Linked DNA regions of Homo sapiens. The protein of the gene in region 1 purifies or fractionates together with the protein of each later gene. This does not show direct contact. Each region holds a gene or a part of one and is shown in the gene's direction. Other genes may lie near its edges.

Region 1 (8,970 bases):
TTTGGAAAATCATTAGACCAAATGGAAGTGTTTCTCATACAGTGGGCTTAAAACGAAATATGTTGATTCAGTGAATTTATGAACAGGTAAGGATCCAGGATCTGTCTCTTAAATAGTAAGTAGAATTTGAATTAGTGGAGAGAAAGAACAAGGCCATTTTAAGTAGAGGGAACAACATAAGTAAATGTGAAAAACAAACTTATTAAAAGGATAATAAAATTCATCACGAGTCAAGAGTTAATATTTTAGGGGTGCTGCGAGATAAGTTTGGGAAAAGTGAGTTGGTGATTAGATTATGAAGAATTTGAATTGTGAGGCTAAGGTATCTAAAGTATTTGAACATTATAATTACTGGCGAGCCATAGAATAATGATATTGAACATTTGTGTGGACATAATGGGCAATAGAATGTAGTGCTTAAGAGTATGAACTTTGGAGCAAAACTGGGTTCAAATTCTAGCTTAGGTCAGTAACTAAGCAAATGACAACCTCTCTGTGCTCTAGTTTCCTAATCAAATGGAGATAATGGTTTTTAACTCAAAGAGCCATTGTGATGGTTAAATGAATTACCAATTATTCTATGTAAAAATACTGAGAACAGTGCTTAGCACATAGTAAGCATTCCGTAAATATTAACTGTTGTCATTTATATGACATTTAAATTTTCACACTACTTTCATGTGTACTGTTCCTTCTCATTTTCATGGCAACTCTGTGAGGTAGATATTACTATATCCAGTTTAATAATGGAGTAAATGAAGCCAAAGAGAGGTTTTGTCATGCCGGATCCCCAAATGACAGAACTGATCACATGATTCTAAGCCACTTCACCATGATTCTTTGTAATCTAAAAAACTAATAGAACAATGGGATGACATGCTGAAAGTCAAGTTTTGGGAAATTATTCTAGTGACATTCTGCAGAGTAAAATGAAGACGAGAAAGAACCCACAGGCGACTTTTTAAGGCTCTTAAAATAATCTAGGTTTGGCCAGGCGGGGTGGTTCATGCCTGTAATCCCAACACTTTGGGAGGCCAAGGTGGGTGGATCACGAGGTCAGGAGATGAAGACAATCCTGGCCAACATGGTGAAACCCTGTCTGTACTAAAAATACAACAATTAGCTGGGCGTGGTGGTGCGTGCCTGTAATCCCAGTTACTCGGGAGACTGAGGCAGGAGAATCGCTTGAACCAGGGAGTCGGAGGTTGCAGTGAGCCGAGATCACGCCATTGCACTCCAGCCTGGCAACAGGGTGAGACTGTCTCAAAAAAATAAATAGGTAGATAGATAGATAGATAGATGATAGATAATCTAGGTTTAGGTTTTATTTATGAAAAATTTCTATGCCAGGGCTATATCATTGAGAATGAAGACAAAAGATTATTAATTCAAGGGAAGTTATGAATTTTATAACTGACCAATATCTTAATATTCTTTCAGCTGTATTTAAACTTGAAACAGATAGAAGTATATGGCCCTTGATAAGAATCTATCGGGGTGGCTTTCTTCTGATTGAATTCCTTTTTCTACTGGGCATCAACACGTATGGTTGGAGACAGGCTGGAGTAAACCATGTACTCATCTTTGAACTTAATCCGAGAAGCAATTTGTCTCATCAACATCTCTTTGAGGTAATCAAAGCAAGACATAACACCTCATGAATATAGTTTGCATTAGCTATATAGCTATCTGGTTTAGTGGGTACTTAAATCCATCCTCTACTTGAAGAGGATTATTAGCTTAATAACTAATCATGTTTCTTACTTTTGTTTTATTAAAGATATTTTAAGTAATGGTAAAAGTAAAAATAACAATTTTTCTCTATCTTTCTGTCTTCCCCATCCTTTACTAGATTGCTGGATTCCTCGGGATATTGTGGTGCCTGAGCCTTCTGGCATGCTTCTTTGCTCCAATTAGTGTCATCCCCACATATGTGTATCCACTTGCCCTTTATGGATTTATGGTTTTCTTCCTTATCAACCCCACCAAAACTTTCTACTATAAATCCCGGTTTTGGCTGCTTAAACTGCTGGTAAGTCCAGAAACTTGTGTACCACTTTTAGAGTGGCATATTGGTTATTGACTTCCTCTAAGATAAAACCAAGGCTGCTAGGTTGTACAACTGCAGAGGCCGTGGTTCACATTATAGTTTATGTGAGTGGAGGCCCTGGGAAAAAGTACTCACGTATATTTTCCTCCTGAGATCGAGTATCAGGTGGCCAAATATTGAGATGATTTTGTAAATTATAAACATTTTTTACTTCGTTTAACTAGCTGTGATAAGATGTAGAACTTTGTAAGTTTCCTTCCCCCAAAAAAATGTGGTAAAAGAATTATTTTCCTGTTAAGTTGATGTGAGTATCAACCGAACATTTTATTTTAGGAAAGATTTGTTCTCTAAAAGCAGTAGGAATATCTTACCAGATTATCAAGTTTAATTTGAAAAATTGACTTTGGGCTGGGCGCGGTGGCTCACGCCTGTAATCCTAGCACTTTAGGAAGCCAAGGCGGGTGGATCATCTGAGGTCAGGAGTTTGAGACCAGCCTGACCAACATGGTGAAACCCCGTCTCTACTAAAAATACAAAATTAGCTGGGGGTGGTGGCCCATGCCTGTAATCCTAGCTACTAGGGAGGCTGAGGCAGGAGAATCGCTAGAACCCCAGAGGTGGAAGTTGCAGTGAGCCGCGATTGTGCCATTGCATTCCAGCCTGGGCAACAAGAGCAAAACTCCATCTCAAAAAAAAGAAAAAGAAAAATTGACTTTGATTCTTGTTTATAATAAGTTCTTTTTTTCTTCCACTTTACCTGTCTCTTAATGATCTCAAAATCATTTAGCCTCAGCAGTGAAATAAAATTTCCTGCAAAACTGTAAAGCTTTCTTCTGTAAAGATAACTCCGGAAGGGGACTTCTGTTTACTTGTAAATTGAGCCAGCTCTTTTTGAAAATCATTTGAGGCCAGGTACAGTCGCTCATGCCTATAATCCCAGTATTCGGGAGGCTGAGGTGAGTGGATCCCTTGAGCCCAGGAGTTTCAGACCAGCCTGGGCAACATGGTGTAAACCCTGTTTACAAAAATTAAAAAATTAGCTGGGTGTGATGGTGCACACCTGTAGTCCCAGATACTTGTGACGCTCAGGTGAGAGGATTGCTTGAGCCAGGAACGTCAAAGCTGCAGTGAACCATGTTAGTGCCGCTACACTCCCAGCCTGGGCAACAGACTGAGACCCTATCTCTAAAGGAAAAAACAAAGAAAGAAACAAAGAAAGTAAATCAATTGAGAAAACTTTCATATGATTATTTCTTAGGTTATGAATTACAGCTAACAATAAAGATTAGTGATTAAATTGACCAATCTCTATAAAAACTTTCAGAATTGCTCTATTTTCTCACCTCTTTTTCACTTTATAAGTATACGTCCTTGAAAACTGCAGTTCCTATTGTTTTTCTTTTGTATGCCCCTTATGTTAGCAAAGGTTTTTTTGTTCTTAGCCAAACATAACAATTTTTTTTTAATCTGAAGACATAAAATATGGCTTTCTATTAAGAAAAACTGTAGAACCAGGTGCAGTGGCTCACGCCTGTCGTCCCAGCACTTTGGGAGGCCGAGGTGGGTGGATCACCTGAAGTCCGGAGTTCAAGACCAGCCTGGCTAACATGGCAAAACCCCATCTCTACCAAAAATATAAAAATTAGCCGAGTGAGGTGGCACGTGCCTGTAATCCCAGCTACTCAGGAGGCTGAGGCAGGAGAATCGCTTGAACCCAGGAAGTGGAAGTTGCAGTGAGCCAAGATGGTGCTGCTGCACTCCAGCCTGGACGACAGAGTGAGACTCCTTCTCAAAAAAAAAAAAAAAAAAAAAAAAGGGGGTCTCCTTTGTTGCCCAGGCTTGTCTCAAACCTCCTGGCTTCAAGTGTTCCTCCCGCCTTGGCCTCCCAAAGTGCTGGGATTACAGGCATGAGCCACTGTGCCTGGCCATAAAATTATTTTTAAATGAGACTTTGGAAGATTCAGAAAACTCAGGTTTTACTATGATTACGTAATTACAGTAACAGGATAATATAGTTGTGTACATTGTGTGCTAAGTGGGCATTTCCCCAGTGTATCCTTTGTTTAAATAGCAAGCTGTGATTCATGCATGACTAGTTACTCCTATTAGCAGAATGATTGCCCATTGAGTAGATATTTATTTGTGCATCTGCTGTGTTTTTGCTAATAAATGAGGACTTGTTGATGGAATAGGTTGACAATGGTATAAGCAGTAATAGAATAATAAAATGTACTATCAGATACACTGAAATATAGAAGGAATAATTTCCTTCTATATTTGTGGTTTGTTGTTTTTGTAGTAACTGTTATAAACAGAACAGTGTTATCATTTGTAGATAATTTTAGTATTAATTGACCTGCTGACTTATTTTAATTTAAATCTCACTGGGAAAACTTACCCTTAGACTGATTCCTAGTGAATTAACAAGAATGTGTTCACTCTAGTTATGTTTTTCTGATACCGCTTTTTAAAAGCTTCATCCTAAAGTAAAAGTACATTTCTTTCTTTTTTTCTTTAATTTTTTTTTTTTTTGAGACAGGGTCTGGCTCTATTGCCCAGGCTGAAGTGCAGTGGCGTGATCTCAGCTCACTGCAACCTCCACCTCCCAGGTTCAAGTGATCCTCCCACCTCAACCTCTCCAGTAGTTAGGACCACAGGTGTGTGCCAACGTGCCTGGCCAATTTTTTGTATTTTTGGTAGAGATGGGGTTTTGCCATGTTGCCCAGCTGGTCTCGAATTCCTGGGCTCAAGTCATCTGCCTGCCTTGCCTCCCAAAGTGCTGGGATTACAAGTGTGAGCCACCACACCCATCCTTTTCTTTAATTTTTAGTGAGAAAAGCACATAGGTCATAATGGTAGGCACTGGGTGCCATTTATATCCATATTTATATTGGAATCTATGGAATTGATATATGCTATGCTCCTAAAAACAAAGCTAAAAAAATTTATAAGAAATTGATTTATTTTGATATGAATATTGTATGTCAAATTAGTATAGATTATTTACATCCATTAGGTTATACTTTCTCTCCTTAAATCTATATTTACCTCAATCAGAAATCTAATTAGGTAGCATAAACAGTGCCTCAGATTTTCTAAACAAAAATATAAATTTTAACTCACTATATTAAAAGTAAGCTAATTAAAAATTTTAAATTATAGTCCTTTGTTACATAATTTAGACATCAGTTTTTACCAACAGTCTCTTTAGTTCTATAGTAAAAATTTTACACATTTCTATTATAAGAATAGAGAGGTGTTGTCATTTAGTAACTACTTTATGTATTTTAATTTTAAAAATAACCCACAAGTTGGAGCTGCTATTAATCCCTATTTTATAAATGAAGAAACCTACATTCAGAGAAGTTAATTAACTTGCCTAAGGTCACATAGCCAGTGAAGTGATGAAGATGAGTTATGAACCCAGGCAGTCGTTTATAATCTGTACTCTTAAACACTAACATTTAACACTTAGCCCTATTAGTCACTTATGTTAGATGTTTAACTTTGATCTAGTGGATCAAACTAGTAGAATATAAAAATCAAATTTGAGGCCAGGCACAGTAGCTCATGCCTGTAATCCTAGCACTTTGAGAGGCGGAGGTGGGAGGATCGCTTAAGCCCAGGAGTTCGAGACCAGCCTGGGCAACGTGGCAAAACCCTTTCTCTACAAAAAATGAAAAATTAGTGGGGCATGGTGGCACGCATCTGTAGCCCCAGTTACTTGGGAGGCTGAGGGAGGAGGATCGCTTGAGTCCAGCAGGTTGAGGTTGCAATGAGCTGAAATTGTACCACTGCACTCCATGAAAAGTAGAAATTAAAACTTCATCTTCTTAGCTATTTATCAGTATTAACTTAAAAGAGGATGTTAACATGTTCTTTGTAATAATTTAGTGGCTTTTTTGTGTAGGTGGTAAAATATCAGCTATCCAGAATTGTCTCTGGCTTTCATAATACTGTTACTCTAGGAATTGTCACTTTAATCAAAATCACAGGGTAGAAGTGGAGAAGTTGAAAGGCCTTATCCAGATTAAGAAGAGAAGGAGGAGTGAGTTACAGAATTCTCTCCCAGAAGGCGATATCAGATAAATCTAGAATGAATTTGACTGTGTGTAAATGTCAGTGAGTTGAGTATGATGTTTATGCTCTCCCTCTCACCCGGCCTCTGACAGAGTGACTTCTTCTTTTCTCTGTATTTCCAGGGTATTTTGTGTGTATCTCTATAATATGGTGCTATAATTATACCTTTATGTATTTATTTGCCCAACTAGACTGTGGATCATTAAGGCCTGTAAGCCGCAGTGCCTGACATTTAATAAATACTTGATAAGTCTTTGTTAAATACATGAATGACTGTAATTATATTCTTCCCTTCATTGGTTGTATTATATAACATTTACTACTCCCTTCTTTCTTCCTTTTTTCATTTTCTCTTTTTGTAAATTTTCCCTTCTTCCCAGTTTTTTTTTTAAATTTTCATGTCAGTCCTATCCTTTTTCAGTCCCATCCCACCATCCCTTTTTTCCTTATTTAATGCATTATCTCCCTCTTCTGCTCTTATGGAGATTTTCTGAATTAGCCAGGTTTTGAGGATGGGGTTGGCAGAGTATGAGAGTAATGATAGTCTGTCTCATGTCAGTTATAAAGAAATTTGTCCTAGGCTACCAGTTTCATAATAGTTCATGATTAGAGATGGATTTAGACTTCCTGATCTTTTGGTGTTATATCCTAAATTATTCTATATTTCTGTCACTTTGAATCCTTTAAGTCCATTCTGCACACTAGAGTTTCTTAAAATATTACAGAAACTGGTGCCAGAGCTTCTTCGTGCATAGATGACTACCATCCTACAGTCCCCCTCTTCCTCACAAAAAGTTTGCTTTATCGGGCGCTTATGGTTGCAAATGGTATAGATTGTCTCTCTGGTTTGTTGGACTCATGGAAAGATTATGAGAGTGGTTAAGAGACTGAGCCATGGAATGAAAGTATATCAGCACCAGAAAATAATGTCTCAAAGCCTGTATGATGTCCCACAGACACCTGGTCTAGCTTCCAAAGCTCCAAGAAAGTACCCGTCATAGGTAGTTGACATCCAGGATTGAGTCATAATGTGACCATTTATCTCCCTGACATAATAAAAATAAATATTTAGAGAAACAGAAGACAGATCCAGCCAAGTCTGAGAAGAGAGTTACAGATTCCCAAGTAGAATATGTCTATGAAATGAATATAACTAGATAATCAGAGCTAGAGATTAGATTCATTTTCTCAAAACTTCTACTTACTCAGAATTTCTTCTTTCAGGAGTCACATTTCCTACTGTATAAGATAGAAAGGGGTCCTTTAGGATGAGGATTAAGGCTTCCTTCATCCCATCTTCACTTCACACAGCGCTTATCAAGACAATCTGCACAATTTGAGCCTATTTCTGGTAATTGCATTGGTACCTACTTCCCTTCTCTGCAATGCCAAGATTTCCCTTTGTAGTGATAAACAGGCTTCCACAGAATATGTTAGGAAGAGTCTGTGTCGGTCTTCTGTAAAATGGGGATATGAATAGTTCCTAGCTCATGGAATTGTTATGAAGATGAGTTAATGCTTGCATAAAGCCTTGAGGAAAATACACTGCATGAGTTACTGCCCAATACATTTAATACATTTATCATGTGTTCAGAACAGTGGGAAGAGGGCTGATTTTTGTGGTATAATTTCAAGATGTACACAGTCATTACCATGTCATTAGTGAAAAGAAAGTGGCTTTGGTTAGATAATGAGGCATGCCTCAGATGGAGTACCATCCTTTCCTACTTATCCTCTGTAAGCAAAGAAGAGTTTTGTATTCAGTTAGCTAAGATGGAGAACAGTCTAGAAATTATAGCACTTGCCTCTCCAGCAAAACTTCCTAACTTTAGAGCCTCTCAGTGCTTCTATCTTTTGCTGCTCTGTGCTTTCAAATTCAACTCTTCCCACCTCTTTGCTTTCTATTTTCTTTTCTTTTTCTTTTTTTTTTTTTTTTTTTGATAACATGGGTGAATTTCTTTTTTTTATATATACTTTAAGTTCTGGGGTACATGTGCAGAACATGCAGGTTTGTTACATAGGTATACATGTGCCATGGTGGTTTGCAGCACCCATCAACCCATCATCTACATTAGGTATTTCTCCTAATGTTATCCCTCCCCCTGCCCCCCACCCCCCAACATGCCCCAGTGTGTGATGTTCCCCTCCCCATGTCCATATGTTCTCTTTGCTAAACTCCCACTTATGAGTGAGAACATGCGGTGTTTGGTTTTGTGTTTGTGTGTTAGTTTGCTGAGAATGATGCTTTCCAGCTTCATCCATGTCCCTGCAAAGGACATGAACTCATCCTTTTTTATGGCTGCATAGTATTCCATGGTGTATATGTGCCATATTTTCTTTATCCAGTCTATCATTGTTGGGCGTTTGGGTTGGTTCCAAATCTTTGCTATTGTGAACAGTGCCACAGTAAACATACATGTGCATGTGTCTTTATAGTAGCATGATTTATAATCCTTTGGGTGTATACCCAGTAATGGGATTGCTGGTTCAAATGGTATTTCTGGTTCTAGATCCTTGAGGAATCGCCACACTGTATTCCACAATGGTTGAACTAATTTATACTCCCACCAACAGTGTAAAAGCATTAGTGTTTCTCCACATCCTCTCCAGCATCTGTTGTTTCCTGAGTTTTTAATGATTGCCATTCTAACTGGTGTGAGATGGTATCTCATTGTGGTTTGATTTGCATTTCACTAATGACCAGTAATGATGAGCATTCTTTCATAAGTGTGTTGGCTGCATAAATGTCTTCTTTTGAGAAATGTCTGTTCATATCCTTCACCCACTTTTTGATGGTTTTTTTTTCTTGTAAATTTGTTTAAGTTCTTTGTAGATTCTGG
Region 2 (7,170 bases), on another chromosome or scaffold:
TTATTCCTACTTTATTCTCCATGTAAATAAGTAAACTTACTTGACATTTAAATGTTAGTTGATTCTGTACAACAGTTTGTCAGTCTGGGAGTGGGGGGTGGCTCCCAAGCCACAGATACCAAAAATACCATGTGTTTGATCCTTTGTGTTCTAACAGCTTTTTAATGGCATCTTATGTGCTACATAAAGTCACTCTAGATAGATTTGACCACCACTGCTCTCTCAAATGTCTACTTAAGGTGGCTATCACAGAACATTGACCTAAAAAAAAAATGACTGGTACCACAGAGGTGGTTTTGTTACTTTGCAGGGGAAAATATTTCAATTTTTTACTTAAAAATTTTGCTGAGAACTGTTGGCAGCTGTACCCTTATGCCTTTTAGTATTTTCTATAAACCAAAAAGTGTATGAGACAGGTTTACTTTGCCAAGGTTGAGGACACACCTGGGAAAAAGAGAGATAAATTTCATTAGGATTTGTAGCCTGTTTTGTTTTGTTTTTTTGTTTTGTTTTGTTTTTTGTTTTTGTTTTTTCCCAAAAAGGATTTTGAGGGCTTCACAGAAACGAAAGAGCAGGCAGGAGGGGGTGGAGGAACAGTCAATTATGCATTTGTCTTATGCTCAGTAAATCTGCGTTTTATATAATTAAGATAAGGTATGCCTAGAGTAGAAGAAGCAGTCAAGTACACATTTTTCTCAGGGTGGGAGGAGAGATGACTTCTAGTCCTGCCTTTGTCCTGTAAAGATAAGCTGTTAATTCACATTGTCAGGGTGAAATTCAACAAAACTCTGTTTTAGGGTAAAGATTTGGGGACCCTTAGAAATTTCCTTGTGAGCAATTTGTGAGGGAGGTCACTGGCCTTCTATCTTTGCAAGTAGCTGCTTAGGAAGGTAGTTTTTGTGTGACTCAGTTCCCACTTTTAATTTTTCCCTTTAGCATAGTGAGTTAGGGATCCTGAGATTTTGTTTTCCATTCACATTTTCTTATCACATACTTTTAGTAATAATGTGCCACAAAGCCACAGCAGCTTTGGAGAACATTTTCTTTCATGAACTTGTTTACTAATCTTTTTGAAACAATGAGCCTTCTGAATGATTGTCTTATTGGCAAGAGAGGCTGGGATCTTAACTAAAAGACAAGGGTATGTGAAGTAGGCTAGGGGTGTGGTGAGCTGTGGGTGTTCTCTCCTGCTTGCTTCTGTTGTCTAAGTGAATTGGAAGCCGGGACTTTAGCAGGGAGTGAGGTTGGGGAGGAGGTGTCAGAAGTGCGAGGAGAGACTGGAGGATGTGTGATAGCTTCTTGGAGAATAGAAGAGCAGATGGCCTGGGAAATAGAGTGTGACTATAAGCAGCATTAAAGGTGCCACTCATGAATTTAACATGAGGCCATTCTGCAGGGTTGTAAGTTGCCCTCTAGGCATATTCACGTTCATGAGCACAGGCACCAGAATGGGCTGAGTATTGGCATTTAAAAAGTTGAAGTTGGGGTTTGACAAAGTGAGTACAGTGATTCAAGGGAAGAGGCAAAGAAGTGATTATAATGATTGAACCAGATGCTTAAGCTCAGTAGTGAAAGGAATGAGGAAATGTCCAGTGTGGGAGACAGAAATAAAGATGGGAGGATCAATGGATCCTATTGTCAAAGGATGGATAAATTTGCAGTTGTAGGGGAAGTAAGCTGTGGAGGTAGAGGTGGTTGTCAGAAGCTAGGTTGAATGATACTGAAATTAGAGGGGTTGCAAGTATTGGTAATGGTCCATATTTGGACCTTTGTGTGAATGGCTAAGAAGGTTGGAGGACAGGACCATTGGAGGAAAAGAGCCTAAAGAACCAAGAAGCCAGAGTGCTGGAAGAATCATCTCCATGGGTGTTGAAATCACTAACATTTAAAAATGGCTTTAGAGTAGGGGACTTTGAGCCATTTTTTACTTCAAGAAGTGAAGGAACATGACCTACGGAGTCAGTAGATGACTGCATAATGGAGTCATATAGTCTGATGATATGAGATTCAAAGCTGGGTGTTTTTAGGGAGAGGAGAAAGAAGATACCCCAGAGGCCCCAATGAGGACCAAGGAAGACTCATGCAGTGTATGAGGAATGGGGGAGAATGGGGAGGGGAAGTGCTGTGTGAGAGGGTTATGAGGGAAGCTGTGTCTTCAGGTAGATGCAGATATTGATTAGAGCAAGTAGATGCAGGCAGCATTCAGAGAAGGGTTTGGGAACATGGGTTTTGCGGATCACAGGCCACATGACCTATAGGACAGGTTTCAAGAGCTAGGAAGAGTGAGGCATAGGGTCACAAAAAGGGGTATGCAGATCTCTATATGACTAGAATACAGGTGATGGAAGGGCAACCAGGAGTCTAGAGCTTTTTAGGGTGGCCCATTAAAATTAGGGATAAAGGGTACAAAGAGGTTAGTCCTGATGGTCCCCAGGTGGAATGAGGCTGTGAGTGACAAAGGCAAGGAGGGAAGAGAGAATCTTTTAAAATCCTCAGATATAATACAAGTGCTCAGAATTTAAAGCAGAAAATTATCTGAGGAGGCCTTCTCCTCCTACTCTGTTTCTAGATTTTAGAAATTGAGTTTACAAAGAGCTAAATGGTTCCCAGTTGTACAGCAACTTAGTGGATGGAGCAAACATGTAACTCAATACAAGAGGCCCCTTTCCCATTTTCTTCCTTCCCTTTCCATGTGTTTTTTCCTGCTCTTCTCTTTTCTTCATTTTTTCATGTCTTGGGTCGAATGGAAATTCATGAAAAGTATATATTTTCACCTGGAGGGTTGGGCTAATATTTACATAGCATGATCTTAAATTTTTAGAATTCTGACACCTAAAATGAGCAGTATTGTGTGTCCAATTAATAGACACATCTCATTCTCAAGGATAATGGAGTATATAGGCACAATTCAAAAATCCTCTTGGCTTTATATTTAACATGAATCAGCGCCAGAGTTTCAGTTATCAATATTAATATGTAACAAAATGTTCCTTTCTCATATGGGGTTAATCTCTCCCCTTCTCTGTCCTCAAACCACTTCTTTGAATTTACTGTGGCCGGCACTTACCTCATATTACAATTGAATGAGGCTGCCTGGCTGAGATATCTTCCACACCTGCTTCACAGGAGGGCCTCCCCTCAGTACAATGCCTGGAACCCATCAGTGTTTGCTGAATTTTTGCTCCCTCTAACATGGCAATCAAATGTTCAAAATGGAGAAGCAAGTGTCTGAAGAATCCAAATTTGAATAGTCATGGAGAATGGGCTCTAGGCCAGAGTCAAATGAGTTTGCTGCTTTCAGCATACCTGGGAAAAGGAGGGGCTCCGTGGGCAGTTTTTCCAGTGGCTTCATTAGGAACATGCTTCCAGGGAGCAGGATAAAGTCCCCCATAAAATAAGGTGTAAAGACAGATGGAATATCTTTCCTGAGGGTCCAGAAAGGCCTTTTATGATTTATGAGGCATGGACCAGTTTGGATGATTTCATTTTAGCACTTTTTTTTTATTTTTTTCTAATTTCAAAATCCTTTTAGAAGACCAAATGTTTGACCTTCCCTTCAAAAGGTTGATACCACTTCCATGAGTGTGGCCTGGATTTATATTGTCTCTGACCTGGGACATTTAACTTTAACTGGCACCACTAAACACCCTTGGGTTATGATTCCTGCCTTGCCTTCCTCTTCTCTGGACTCCAGCTTGGGATCAAGATGGTTGGCATTGTTAGGGTACCCCCTCTACAGATGACCTCCCACAGTCCCCCAGGAAGACATGGGATATTTTCACCAGCCTCATTCGCTCACCATTGGTACCTTCAGCAGAAAGAAATGAAGTCCTCTCCATTTTAACTTTGCTTCCAGCCTGGCCAAGAGAAAAGACTTTCAGACTTCCCTCTAAATCAGCTGCAGTGATAGAAAGCAGACTAGGTAACTTCAGCATGAGAGGGAGGGACCTCATTGCAGGAAGCAAAAGTCACAGTAGAGTTAAGACTCTTGAAAGAAGCACTTTTATTTTCTTGAAGAATTGACAGATCTCTGCTTCCTGTAATGTTTTGTGCAAATTTCTGACAGTGCTATTTTCCCTTCCCATAGGCAATGTGAAGTATTCATCCGGCCAACCAATGTTTCCTGACGTACAGTGTTGCCCTTTTCAGCAAATGCCAATTCCAAGTTCCATTAAATCAGAAGCTCCATGGCTCCTTGGCCCACGATGTTGAGTGCTGACTGTGTGTTCTACTGAAAGAGTAAAACACTGACTATCCAAAGAGAAATGGATATTTTGTTTTTATAATAACCATATATTATTGTTTTCTTCTTCCCTTTCTATGCAAGTGTAAATTAATGAACAGAGAGGTATTTGGAAATGGTAATACATTTGTCACGGATTTGTATAATGTATACAGCATTGGGAAAGTGGGTGGGGGCTTTCTAATATGATACCGTCTTTTTAATAACTATGACAAAGCTTACATAAGAATTAGAAGACCACTTTACATTTTTACATTCCTTCTGCTGTTCATATTAACCTTGCACAATTACTTCATTTTTTCTTTGACTCTTTTACCACAATGTTTTGGTTATTTATAATTTATCAGCCATATGTTTATCAGCCATATAACCAACTAGATCCCAAATAGATCCATGTATTTGTTTCCGTGATTTGGCCACATTAATAAATTCATAAATTTCAATCAAATATCTTATATATACACACATATGGTTTAAGCTACAGCCCTGTGTATGCCGTTTAACTTTATTTGACGTTGCCCACTTACTTCTTTGCTGACCACTTGGATAACCGTAATAAAAATCCTATAAGCCTAAATGGCATTTCTTTTGGGATATTTTTCCTGCATTTTATTCCCTTTTTATATAAGTAGGAATTAATTATTTATTTTATGTCTTAATCTATTTGATAAAGAAGACTACATTATAATAATCTCAAAGATCATATTACCAAAGGTTGCCCACTTGAGCATATTTTCATTTTGACACAGAAACAAAATTTAGTACAACCTTTCCTAGTTCCCATGTCTTGATTTTCATCATTACATGCACAGCAGACCTTTACCTATTGTGATACCAGAACACATCATTGTCTTTGGTTCCCTTCAAAGAGAATTTTATTGTTGTTTTGTATTTTCAAGTCCTTAATAGTTCTTGAAACTCCTAGTTGTTTTCTTGTTGAAAGCAGACACACATTTAGTGCACGGCTTATTTTACCTTTCGGGTGAAAGATCAGATGTTTTTATACCCTTCACTTGATCAATATATTTGGAAAGAATGTTTATCAAAAGTCTATGTCACTGCTTCTACAGAAGAATGAAATTAATGCTTAGGTGATGGTACCTCCACCTACATCTTTTTGAGTGCATTCAATTATGTATTTTGGTTTAGCTTCTGATTTAACATTTAATTGATTCAGTTTAAACATGTTACTTAATTAGCAAATGTAGAGGAACCAAAAAAAGGTGAAAATAATATGTTTTGATTCAAACCTAAAGACATAAAAACATAAAGACATTTTAACTTTGGGTTCTCTTTAGCTGGGATCTGGCCAGAAGGAGGCTTAAAGTTAGAAATTGCTATTATTTTAGAATAGGTTGGGTGGGTTGGGGGGCAAGGGTGTCTATTTGCAGCAGAGATATTTTGAAAAGAAGAAAATTGTTTTATATAAAAAGGAAAGCCATGACCACCTTTCTACCTCAGATCCATCTTCATCCATTGCATTGGAAACTGCTTTATGCTGCTGCAGTCTGCAAAGTCTAGAGCTTTTATCAGGCCATGTCATACCCAAGAAAGCACCTATTTAAAGAAAAAACAATTCCCTGAGCTCTCAACTCCAAGTTGTAGATTTGGTGTCTTCCTTGTTCTTACTTTAAAAAGTCATGTGTTAATTTTTTTTCTGCCTGTATTTGTATGCAAAATGTCCTCTATCTGCTATTAAAGAAAAGCTACGTAAAACACTACATTGTAACCTTCTAAGTAATAATAAATAAAAAGAAATATATTGCAGTAACAATGGGAAGTAAGTATGTAGTTCTTTTGAAATATGTGGTAAAGAACTAATCACAGACTATCATCTAATCTGGTTACATATTGTATTTTTCATCCTGAATAAAAGTAATTTTAACACAAGATGACTTTGATATTCTTCAGCTGGATTCACTGATAGAATGTGAGTTTTGAATGCACATTTATGAAAACAAGATATAGAGATAGCCTGTGTCCTGATACATCTACATTTTTTCCTGCAGTTTCTCTCATACACACTAATACAGTCTCCTGTTGCTCTCATTCTCTCTCTCTCCCCATCTCTTACACATACATATAATTATATGATTCTCAATTTATTTTCCAGATAGAAGGTTTATTGATAGAGAAAAGTAATATTGGATGTAAAAATGTGTACATAAAACCTGTTGAGTGTTTTAATAACTAGATGCTGTTGACATTAAGTTCCTTTCAAATGTACTTTTAGTTTCATGCTCTCAAATACTGTATGCTTTTTATCCGTACACTGGATTTTAACCACTCTAGTAGGTTTAATCAATTTCTGAAGCCATTCAGTGGGAAACAATGTTGAGAATCATGTTGCTTTATTCTAAAATTAAAAGCTGTCTATGAACTAGAAAAATCATCTAAAATATAATTTGTTAAAATAAAGAAAACTGATACATTCTGATGAACAAACATTTTAAACATCCTGTGTACCACTAAGTAATGCTGACATTAAGCATTCCTGAAAAAACACTTGATTTCCAGCAACTTGTTGACTAGGTAGCTGAAAATAGAAGTGCGAACAAATGAACAAGTTTTGCTTTCATACTGCTGTGGTTTGAATGTGTCACCCACAGTTCATGTGTTGAAAATTTAATCCCCGATTCCATAGTGTTGAGGGGTTGGACCTTTAAGAAGTGATTGGATCATGAGGTCAGAGGTCATGAATGGATTAATGTCATCACAGAAGTGTGTTTGCTATCTCAAGTGGGTTTATTACCAAAGCACGTTGGGTTCTCTCACTTTCTCTTGCATGTTCTCTGCCCTGTCACCTTCCACCATAGGATGACGCAGCAAGACAGGCCTTACCAGATGCTGGCACCTTGATATTGGACTTCCCAACCTCCAGAACGCTGAGAAATAAATTTCTTTTCTTTGTAAATTACCCAATCTGT
Region 3 (8,970 bases), on another chromosome or scaffold:
TGCTGTGGTGACATTTGGGACACTATCATGGTGCCTGGGGTGGGTGGGTGCCCAGGCCTGTGGGCTTCTGTCTTTCATCAAAGAACTTCAGATCCCAGAAAATTAAGATTCTCAAAACATAACTGTCGGAAAGGGCTTTTGAATCCACCTTGGTGGCCTCTTCCTGCCTCCAGGGCTCATGAGATAGGCTGACTTCATATGAAAGTTTTGAGGATGAGGAAGTCTCTCTCCTCTTCAGATACTGACCCTCTCTCTCCTTATTTCCTTGGTGCCCAGAATAGGGCTTTGGTTATCTTGAATGAATGAATATAAACTCACAGGTGTGATCTGAGCCACCTAAAGCCTTCTTTGGGTTCTGCTCAGCTTGAGGGCATCACCTAAAGGCCACTGGCTGCATTTTCCAGGAGGTGTTTTCTAAGCTGTATCTATATAGGAATGGGGAGGAAAGCTAAGTCATTGTAGACTGAGAGAAAGGGAATAAGAGTCTGTTCCAGACCAGCTAGGGCTGACAAGCTTAGGCAGCTGGGGGCAGAGGGCACTGAGAATGAGGCCCTGAGCTAGCACCGTGTGGGAAGTGCCTATGGGAGGAGCTGTGTATTGACATTTAGGATCAAATTCTGCTCCACACCTTGCATTCTTGCATGGGGGAGGTGAAAAACCTGAGTATTTCCGGCATCTCCTTGGAAGTCCCTGGGGACTTAGAGACAGACACTGGCATCTGGGAGGAGGCTAATTACTGTTTGCTAGTCTCCTTCTCTTCTTCCCCCGAGCTGGAGCAGTTGGGCAACCAACTGGCTGGCTGTGTGTATGCCCGTGTGTGCACCTGGGTGGTGCTATTTCTTTGTTGGACTCTGCTCTGAAGCCTGGGACAGGAACGGTCAGTGGCCTTGAGTGGCAGAGTAGGACACACCTCTTCCCCTGAGCCTGTGTTTCCCTGTAGTCATATCTGTATTTTTTTTTTTTTTTTGAGATAGGGTCTCACTTTGTCACCTAGGCTGGAGTGCAGTGGCACAATCTTGGCTCACTGCAGCCTTGACCTCCTGGGCTCAAGCGACCCTCCCACCTCAGCCCCCCAAGTAGCTGGGACTACAGGTGCACACCACCATGCCTGGCTAATTTTTTTTTTTTTTTGTATTTTTGGTAGAGACAGGGTTTCAACATGTTGCCCAGGCTGGTCTCAAACTCCTGAGCTCAAGAGATCTGCCCTCCTTGGCCTCCCAAAGTGCTAGGATTACAGGCATGAGCACCGTGCATGGCCTCATATCTGGATATTTAGCATATAGTGTGTCAGAGTTTATGTGTGTTAGTGGTAGTGGTGGGTGTCTGATCCCTGGAGAGCAGGTAGGTGGAGGAGGTGCGCTGGGCCAAGCTAGGTGGGTGAAATCTCCTGAAGCAGGTGGCCTAAAGGATTTAGGTTGGGGAAGGAACGAGCTTGGTAATCACAAGATAGGCTTGGCTGGAAATGGAATCAGAATGGTAGCTGAGAACACATCATGCCTGGAGCCTCCAGTGCAAAGCAAACACTTTTAAATTTCATCATGGAAGCAATGAGCAGCTCTCGAAGCTAGGGATAGATATGGTTTGATAAGTGCTTTAGAAAGATCACTATGGTTGCCGTGATCAGAAGGCACTGGTGAGAAAGAAGTTAGAGTCAGAGAGGCCTGTTGGGGGAAGCGTTTGGTAATACAGGGGAGAAGTGACAGTGCCCAAACTATGACAGAAACAGGACAGTGGGTGAAACAGAGCGAGGAAGTAGCTGGCCCACAGATGTGGTGCCAGGAGCAAAGCAGGAAGGCAGGCATGGAAATGGATTTGGTGATGGATGATGGCTGAGAGCAGGGTGAGTTTGAGGGCAAAGAGAAGCAGATGTGAGAAACAACTGGCCCCCCATGCCAGGCTCCTGCCCCAGGCCCTAATGTCTGAACCCAACTCTACCTCCCTCCAAACCAGGCCCTGGGACTAAGTCTGGCTTTGGGTGTCTTCTTCAATCTCCAGACTTCATCAGGCTTTTGACTCAGGATAAAAACACATCCCTGAGCTGTTCTCCCTTCCTCCCTCCTCTCCCCCTCTGGGGACAGGGAAGCTAGCCTACCGCCCTGTTAAAAGTCTCAAGGGGGACTGGGCGAGGTGGCTCACGCCTGTAATGCCAGCACTTCTGGAGGCTGAGGCAGGTGGATCACTTGAGGTCATGAGTTCGAAGCCAGCCTGACCAACATGGTGAAACCCTGTCTCTACCAAAAATACAAAAATTAGCTAGGTGTGGTGGTGTGCGCCTTTAATCCCAGCTACTCGGGAGGTTGAGGCAGGAGACCCGCTTGAACCCAAGAGGCAGAGATTGCAGTGAGCTGAGATCATGCCACTGCACTCCAGTCTGGGTGACAGAGAGAGACTCCATTTCAAAAAAAAAAGTCTCAAGGAGCTGGCTGGACAATACCCCCTCTCCCACCCTGACCATCCACACCTCTAGGAGAGCAGGACTTTTCTAGTTCCTTTCCCGTCTCTTCAGCCCGAACGGCCCCATGTGTGATCTGGGGAGGCCTGGCTTATCCTGTGATCCTGGAAAGCTTCCTGACCCTCTCAGGGTTTGTTTCTCCACTAGGAAAATGAGGATGGGTGCCATCTCCCAGTCACATGGGCCGCTCCCCAGTCACAGAGTCCTAATTTGGGCAAGCATTAGGTCCCATGAGAAAGGGTGGGTTAGGCACAGATTGTCCTGGTAAGGGTCTCACCTTTGCCACTCTTCAAGCCCTCAGGTTCCAGTATTCATCTTCCCAAAGTATACACCTCCTCTTAGCTTGCGGCAGCAAATGGAAATATCATGGGATGAGATAGCTCAGTTCCATCTCTGTCTCCTCCTTTCAGAGCAGGTTGAGATGAACTCAGTCAGATGGCCCCACGGCCCGCTCCTTTCTTAGCAGCCCACTAATGCTCCAGAACCCTCAGGAGAAGAGCCAGGCCTACCCCCGCCGCCGCCGGCCTGGCTGCTACGCATACCGTCAGAACCCCGAGGCCATCGCAGCCGCAGCTATGTACACCTTCCTGCCCGACAACTTCTCACCTGCCAAGCCCAAGCCTTCCAAAGACCTGAAGCCGCTGCTGGGCTCCGCGGTTCTGGGGCTGCTGCTTGTGCTGGCCGCGGTGGTGGCCTGGTGCTACTACAGCGTCTCCCTACGCAAGGCGGAGCGACTTCGCGCGGAGCTGCTGGACCTGAAAGCTGGCGGCTTCTCCATCCGCAATCAGAAGGGAGAGCAGGTCTTCCGCCTGGCCTTCCGCTCCGGCGCGCTGGACCTTGACTCCTGCAGCCGCGATGGCGCCCTGCTGGGCTGCTCGCTCACGGCCGACGGGCTGCCGCTGCACTTCTTCATCCAGACTGTGCGGCCCAAGGACACGGTCATGTGCTACCGCGTGCGCTGGGAGGAGGCAGCGCCGGGCCGGGCCGTGGAGCACGCCATGTTCTTGGGCGACGCGGCGGCCCACTGGTATGGTGGCGCCGAGATGAGGACGCAACACTGGCCCATCCGCCTGGATGGCCAGCAGGAGCCCCAGCCGTTCGTCACCAGCGATGTCTACTCCTCCGACGCCGCGTTTGGGGGCATCCTCGAGCGCTACTGGCTATCTTCGCGCGCGGCCGCCATCAAAGTCAATGACTCAGTGCCCTTCCACCTGGGCTGGAACAGCACGGAGCGCTCGCTGCGGCTTCAGGCGCGCTACCACGACACGCCCTACAAGCCACCCGCCGGCCGCGCCGCAGCGCCAGAGCTGAGCTACCGAGTGTGCGTGGGCTCAGACGTCACCTCCATCCACAAGTACATGGTGCGTCGCTACTTCAACAAGCCGTCAAGGGTGCCAGCACCCGAGGCCTTCCGAGACCCCATTTGGTCCACATGGGCGCTGTACGGGCGCGCCGTGGACCAGGACAAGGTGCTGCGTTTTGCCCAACAGATCCGCCTGCACCACTTCAACAGCAGCCACCTGGAAATCGACGACATGTACACACCTGCTTATGGCGACTTCGACTTCGATGAGGTCAAATTCCCCAACGCCAGCGACATGTTCCGCCGCCTGCGCGACGCCGGCTTCCGCGTCACGCTCTGGGTGCACCCTTTTGTCAACTACAACTCGTCGCGCTTCGGCGAGGGCGTGGAGCGCGAGCTGTTCGTGCGCGAACCCACGGGCCGGTTACCTGCGCTGGTGCGCTGGTGGAACGGCATCGGCGCGGTGCTAGACTTCACGCACCCAAAGGCCCGCGACTGGTTCCAGGGACACCTGCGGCGGCTGCGCTCTCGCTACTCCGTGGCTTCCTTCAAGTTCGACGCGGGCGAGGTCAGCTACCTGCCGCGGGACTTCAGCACCTACCGGCCGCTGCCGGACCCCAGCGTCTGGAGCCGGCGCTACACTGAGATGGCGCTGCCCTTCTTCTCGCTGGCGGAGGTGCGCGTAGGCTACCAGTCACAGAACATCTCCTGCTTCTTCCGCCTGGTGGATCGCGACTCTGTGTGGGGCTACGACCTGGGGTTGCGCTCACTCATCCCCGCGGTGCTCACCGTCAGCATGCTGGGCTACCCATTCATCCTACCCGATATGGTGGGCGGCAACGCCGTGCCCCAGCGGACAGCCGGCGGCGATGTGCCCGAGCGCGAGCTCTACATTCGCTGGCTGGAAGTGGCCGCCTTTATGCCGGCCATGCAGTTCTCTATCCCGCCCTGGCGCTACGACGCGGAAGTGGTGGCCATCGCGCAGAAGTTCGCCGCCCTGCGGGCCTCGCTTGTGGCACCGCTGTTGCTTGAGCTGGCGGGCGAGGTCACCGACACGGGTGACCCTATCGTGCGCCCCCTTTGGTGGATTGCGCCCGGCGACGAGACAGCTCACCGTATCGACTCGCAGTTCCTTATTGGGGACACGCTGCTTGTGGCCCCGGTGCTGGAGCCAGGCAAGCAGGAGCGCGACGTCTATTTGCCCGCCGGCAAGTGGCGCAGCTACAAGGGTGAGCTTTTCGACAAGACGCCGGTGCTGCTCACCGATTACCCGGTCGACCTGGATGAGATCGCCTACTTTACCTGGGCGTCCTGACCCAGCCCAGGGCCCGGTAACCGCAAAGCCCCCAGTCTTCATGCAGACCTTGAACCCTCCGTCACACCCGCACCATGTACTCCCAGGAACCTCCCACCTCTATACCACCCATTAAGTGGCTGCTGACTTAAATGTGCTGGAACCAGCTGCTGAAGGTGGGGCCTAGGGAGGGGGCACTGAAGCAATCTCCTGCTCCAACGCACAATCCTTACTGTGCCCTTTCCACCCCCACACTCACACCAATCTGCAGAAACCTCTTCCCTGGGGTGGAAGCCAGAGAGCTTAGAGGAAAAAGGTCAGCTCTCTTCCTGTTATACATGGTTATACATGGTTGGGGTTTAAAAGCACAAAGAGAAACCTCCCCCTCCTGGCTTTCGTGGCCATCTTTGTCCATCTTAGGTGGGGACTTGATCTTATTTAAGGTCTCCAAATAGCCCCCACCACACTTAGAACGTGTGTTTTCTTAGTGTTAGAAGCCAGGCCCTGAGTCCCCAGCACTCACCTGAACTGTGGCTGATTTGGTCCCAGTCCAGCTGGGGAGGTGTTTGGCTGACAAGGAGGCAAGAGATCCCCTCCCAGGGAACAGGAGGACTGGGCTTAGCACAGAGCCATCATCATGTTCCCAATTTGTGAAGAGACTCCTAACACTGCACTAACCCATTTGTGTACATACATGGGCTCAGCCCTGGGCCAAATGTGCCTGATGGGAACAGACTTGCAGGGCCATGCAGGCCAGACTTCGTGCCTTAACTGAAGAGTGTGCGTGTGTGTGTGTGAGAGAGAGAGAGAGAGAGAAACACGCATCATGGGTCCCTGATCTATGAAATGAACACAACCTCTCTGAGGCTGGATGATCTGGAGGAAGGGGGCATGGAGCAAATTTGAGGCTCTGATTGCTGAGCCAGCCTCCTCCCAGGCGGTTTCCCCAGGACTCTCGTAGGAAATAAATAGCCCTTTCAAGATTCCTCAGCTGCCTCACCCCCTGCACATGTGCCTGGGGTGTGGCCTAGAAGGGAGTGATGTTCTTACTCTGGTGGTCTGTGCTTCTGAACACAGGCTACATGCACACACTGACAACTACCAATAAACAGACAGGGGAAGGTCTTTCATCTCAGCCATTTTCTCTTCCCCCCGCCCCCCCTTAGATGGAGTCTTGCTCTGTCACCCAGGTTGGAGTGCAGTGGCACAATCAGCTCACTGCAACCCCTCCTCCTAGGTTCAAGCGATTGAGTAGCTGAGATTACAGGCATGCATCACTATGCCTGGCTTTTTGTATTTTTTAGTAGAGATGGGGTTTACCATGTTGGCCAGGCTAGTCTCAAACTCCTGACCTAGTGATGCACCCACCTTGGCCTCCCAAAGTGTTGGGATTACAGGCATGAGCCACCACGCCAGCCATTTTCTCTTTCTAAGAAGAGCAACCTCAGCCGGAGTGAGTTTTTTCTGACTTTGCAGCTGAGTCTGGAGAAAAGTGGCATGCCAGAGCGGGTCGGTGGGAAACAGGGTGAACTTTAGCTTCCATCAACAGCTCTGGTAGCAAAACCAGTCCCCTACCCCCTAGAGAATGCATCCGTTTCCCCACCTGATATGGTTTGGCTGTGTCCCCACCTAAAACTCATCTTGAATTGTAGCTCCCATAATTGCCATGTGTTGTGGGAAGGACCCAGTGGGAGATAATTGAAATATGGGGGCAGTTTCCGCCATACTGTTCTGGTGATAGTGAATAGATCTCATGAGAGCTGATGATTTTATAAGAGGTTTCCCCTTTTGCTTAGTTCTCATTCTCTCTTGCCTGCCGCCATGTAAGACGTGCCTTTCTGTCATGCTTGTGAGGCCTCCCCAGCCACGTGGAGCTGTGAGTTCATTAAACCTCTTTTTCTTTATAAATTACCCAGTCTTGGTTATGTCTTTATCAGCACTGTGAAAATGAACCTATACAGTAAATTGGTACCAGTAGAGTGGGGCGCTGCTGTAAATACCCAAAAATGTGGAAGCAACTTTGGAACTGGGTAACAGGCAGAGGTTGGAACAGTTTGGAGGGATCAGAAGACAGGAAAATGTGGGAAAGTTTGGGACTTCCTAGAGACTTGTTAAATGGCTTTGACCAAAATGCTGATAATGATTGGGACATGAAATCCAGGCTGAGTTGGTCTCAGATAGCGATGAGGAACTTGTTTGGTACTGGAGTAAAGGTGACTCTTGCTATATTTTAGCAAAGAGACTGGCTGCATTTTGCCCCTGCCCTAGAGATTTGTGGAACTTTGAACTCGAGGGAGATGATTTAGGGTATCTGGCAGAAGAAATTTCTAAGCAGCAAAGCATTCATGAGGTGACTTGGGTGCTGTTAAAAGCATTCAGTTTTAAAAGGGAAACAGACTATAAAAGTTTGGAAAATTTGCAGCCTGATGATGAGATAGAAAAGAAAAACCCATTTTCTGAGGATAAATTCAAGCCCCCTGCAGAAATTTGCATAAGTAACAAGGAGCCAAATGTTAATCACTAAGACATGGGGAAAATGTCTGCAGGGCATGTCAGAGACCTTTGCAGCAGTGCCTCCCATCACAGGCCTGGAGGCCTAGGAGGGAAAAAATGGTTTTGTGGGCCAGGCCCAAGGTCCCCTTGCTGTGTGCAGCCCAGGGACTTGGTACCATGCATCCCAGCTGCTCTAGTCATGGCTAAAAGGGGCCAAGATACAGCTCAGGCCTTGGCTTCAGAGGGTGCAAGCCCCAAGTCTTGGCATCTTCCACGTAGTGTTGAGCCTGCAGGTGCACAGAAGTCAAGAACTGAGGTTTGGGAACCTCTGCCTAGATTTCAGAGAATGTATGGAAATGCATGTATGTCCAGGCAGAAGTTTGCTACAGGAGTGAGGCCCTCATGGAGAACCTCTGTTAAGGCAATGTGGAAGGGGAAGCCCCCACACAGAGACCCCACTGGGACACTGCCTAGTAGAGCTGTCAGAAGAAGGCCACCGTCCTCCAGACATCAGAATGGTATATCCACTGACAGCTTGCACCATGCACCTGGAAAAGCCACAGACACTCAACGCCAGCCTGTAAAAGCAACCGAGAAGTAGGCTGTACCCTGCAATGCCATAGGGGTGGAGCTGCCCAAGACCATGGGAACCCACCTCCTGCATCAGTGTGACCTGGATGTGAGACATGGAGTCAAAGGAGACCATTTTGGAGCTTTAAGATTTAACTGCCCTGCTGGATTTCAGACTTGCATGGGGCCTTTAGCCACTTCGTTTTGGCCAACTTCTCCCACTTGAAATGGGTGTATTTAGCCAATGCCTGTACCTCCGTTGTATCTAGGAAGTAACTAACTAGCCTTTGATTTTACAGGCTCATAGGTGGAAGGGACTTGCCTTGTTTCAGATGAGACTTTGGAGTATGGACTTTTGAGTTAATGCTGAAATGAGTTAAGACTTTGGGGGACTGTTGGGAAGGCATGATTGATTTTTAAATGAGAGGACATGAGATTTGGGAGGGGCCAGGGAGAGAATGATATGGTTTGGCTGTGTCCCCATCCAAATATCACCTTAAATTGTAGCTCCCATAATTGTGGGAGGGACCTGGTGGGAGATAATTGAATCATAGGGGCAGTTTCTCCCATACTGTTCTGGTGGTAGTGAATAAGTCTCACGAGATCTGATGGTTTAATAAGGGGTTTCCCCTTTTGCTTGGCTCTCATTCTCTCTTGTCTGCTGCCATGTAAGATGTGCCTTTTGCCTTCCACCATGATTGTGAGGCCTCCCAGCCACATGGAACTGTGAGTTCATTAAACCTCTTTTTCTTCATAAATTACCCAGTCTCGGGTATGTCTTTATCAGCAGTGTGAAAACAGACTAATACACCACTCCTCTACCTTCTTTATTTTCTCAGTGTGGAAAATGCCTGATGA

What was found.
Region 2: the proteins of XPR1 (region 1) and UTRN purify together in Homo sapiens (affinity purification with mass spectrometry; 2 studies listed by BioGRID and IntAct, with this or other methods). This does not show direct contact.
Region 3: the proteins of XPR1 (region 1) and MYORG purify together in Homo sapiens (affinity purification with mass spectrometry; 2 studies listed by BioGRID and IntAct, with this or other methods). This does not show direct contact.

Annotation. Positions count from the first base shown.
Region 1 is NC_000001.11:180,823,313-180,832,282, forward strand, and holds part of XPR1 (solute carrier family 53 member 1), read left to right. Parts: intron 1-1,440; coding exon 1,441-1,631; intron 1,632-1,852; coding exon 1,853-2,032; intron 2,033-8,970. UniProt on the Homo sapiens protein: Inorganic ion transporter that mediates phosphate ion export across plasma membrane.
Region 2 is NC_000006.12:144,846,902-144,854,071, forward strand, and holds the end of UTRN (utrophin), read left to right. Parts: intron 1-4,087; coding exon 4,088-4,096; 3' UTR 4,097-6,133; downstream 6,134-7,170.
Region 3 is NC_000009.12:34,366,899-34,375,868, reverse strand, and holds part of MYORG (myogenesis-regulating glycosidase), read left to right. Parts: intron 1-2,862; 5' UTR 2,863-2,925; coding exon 2,926-5,070; 3' UTR 5,071-8,970.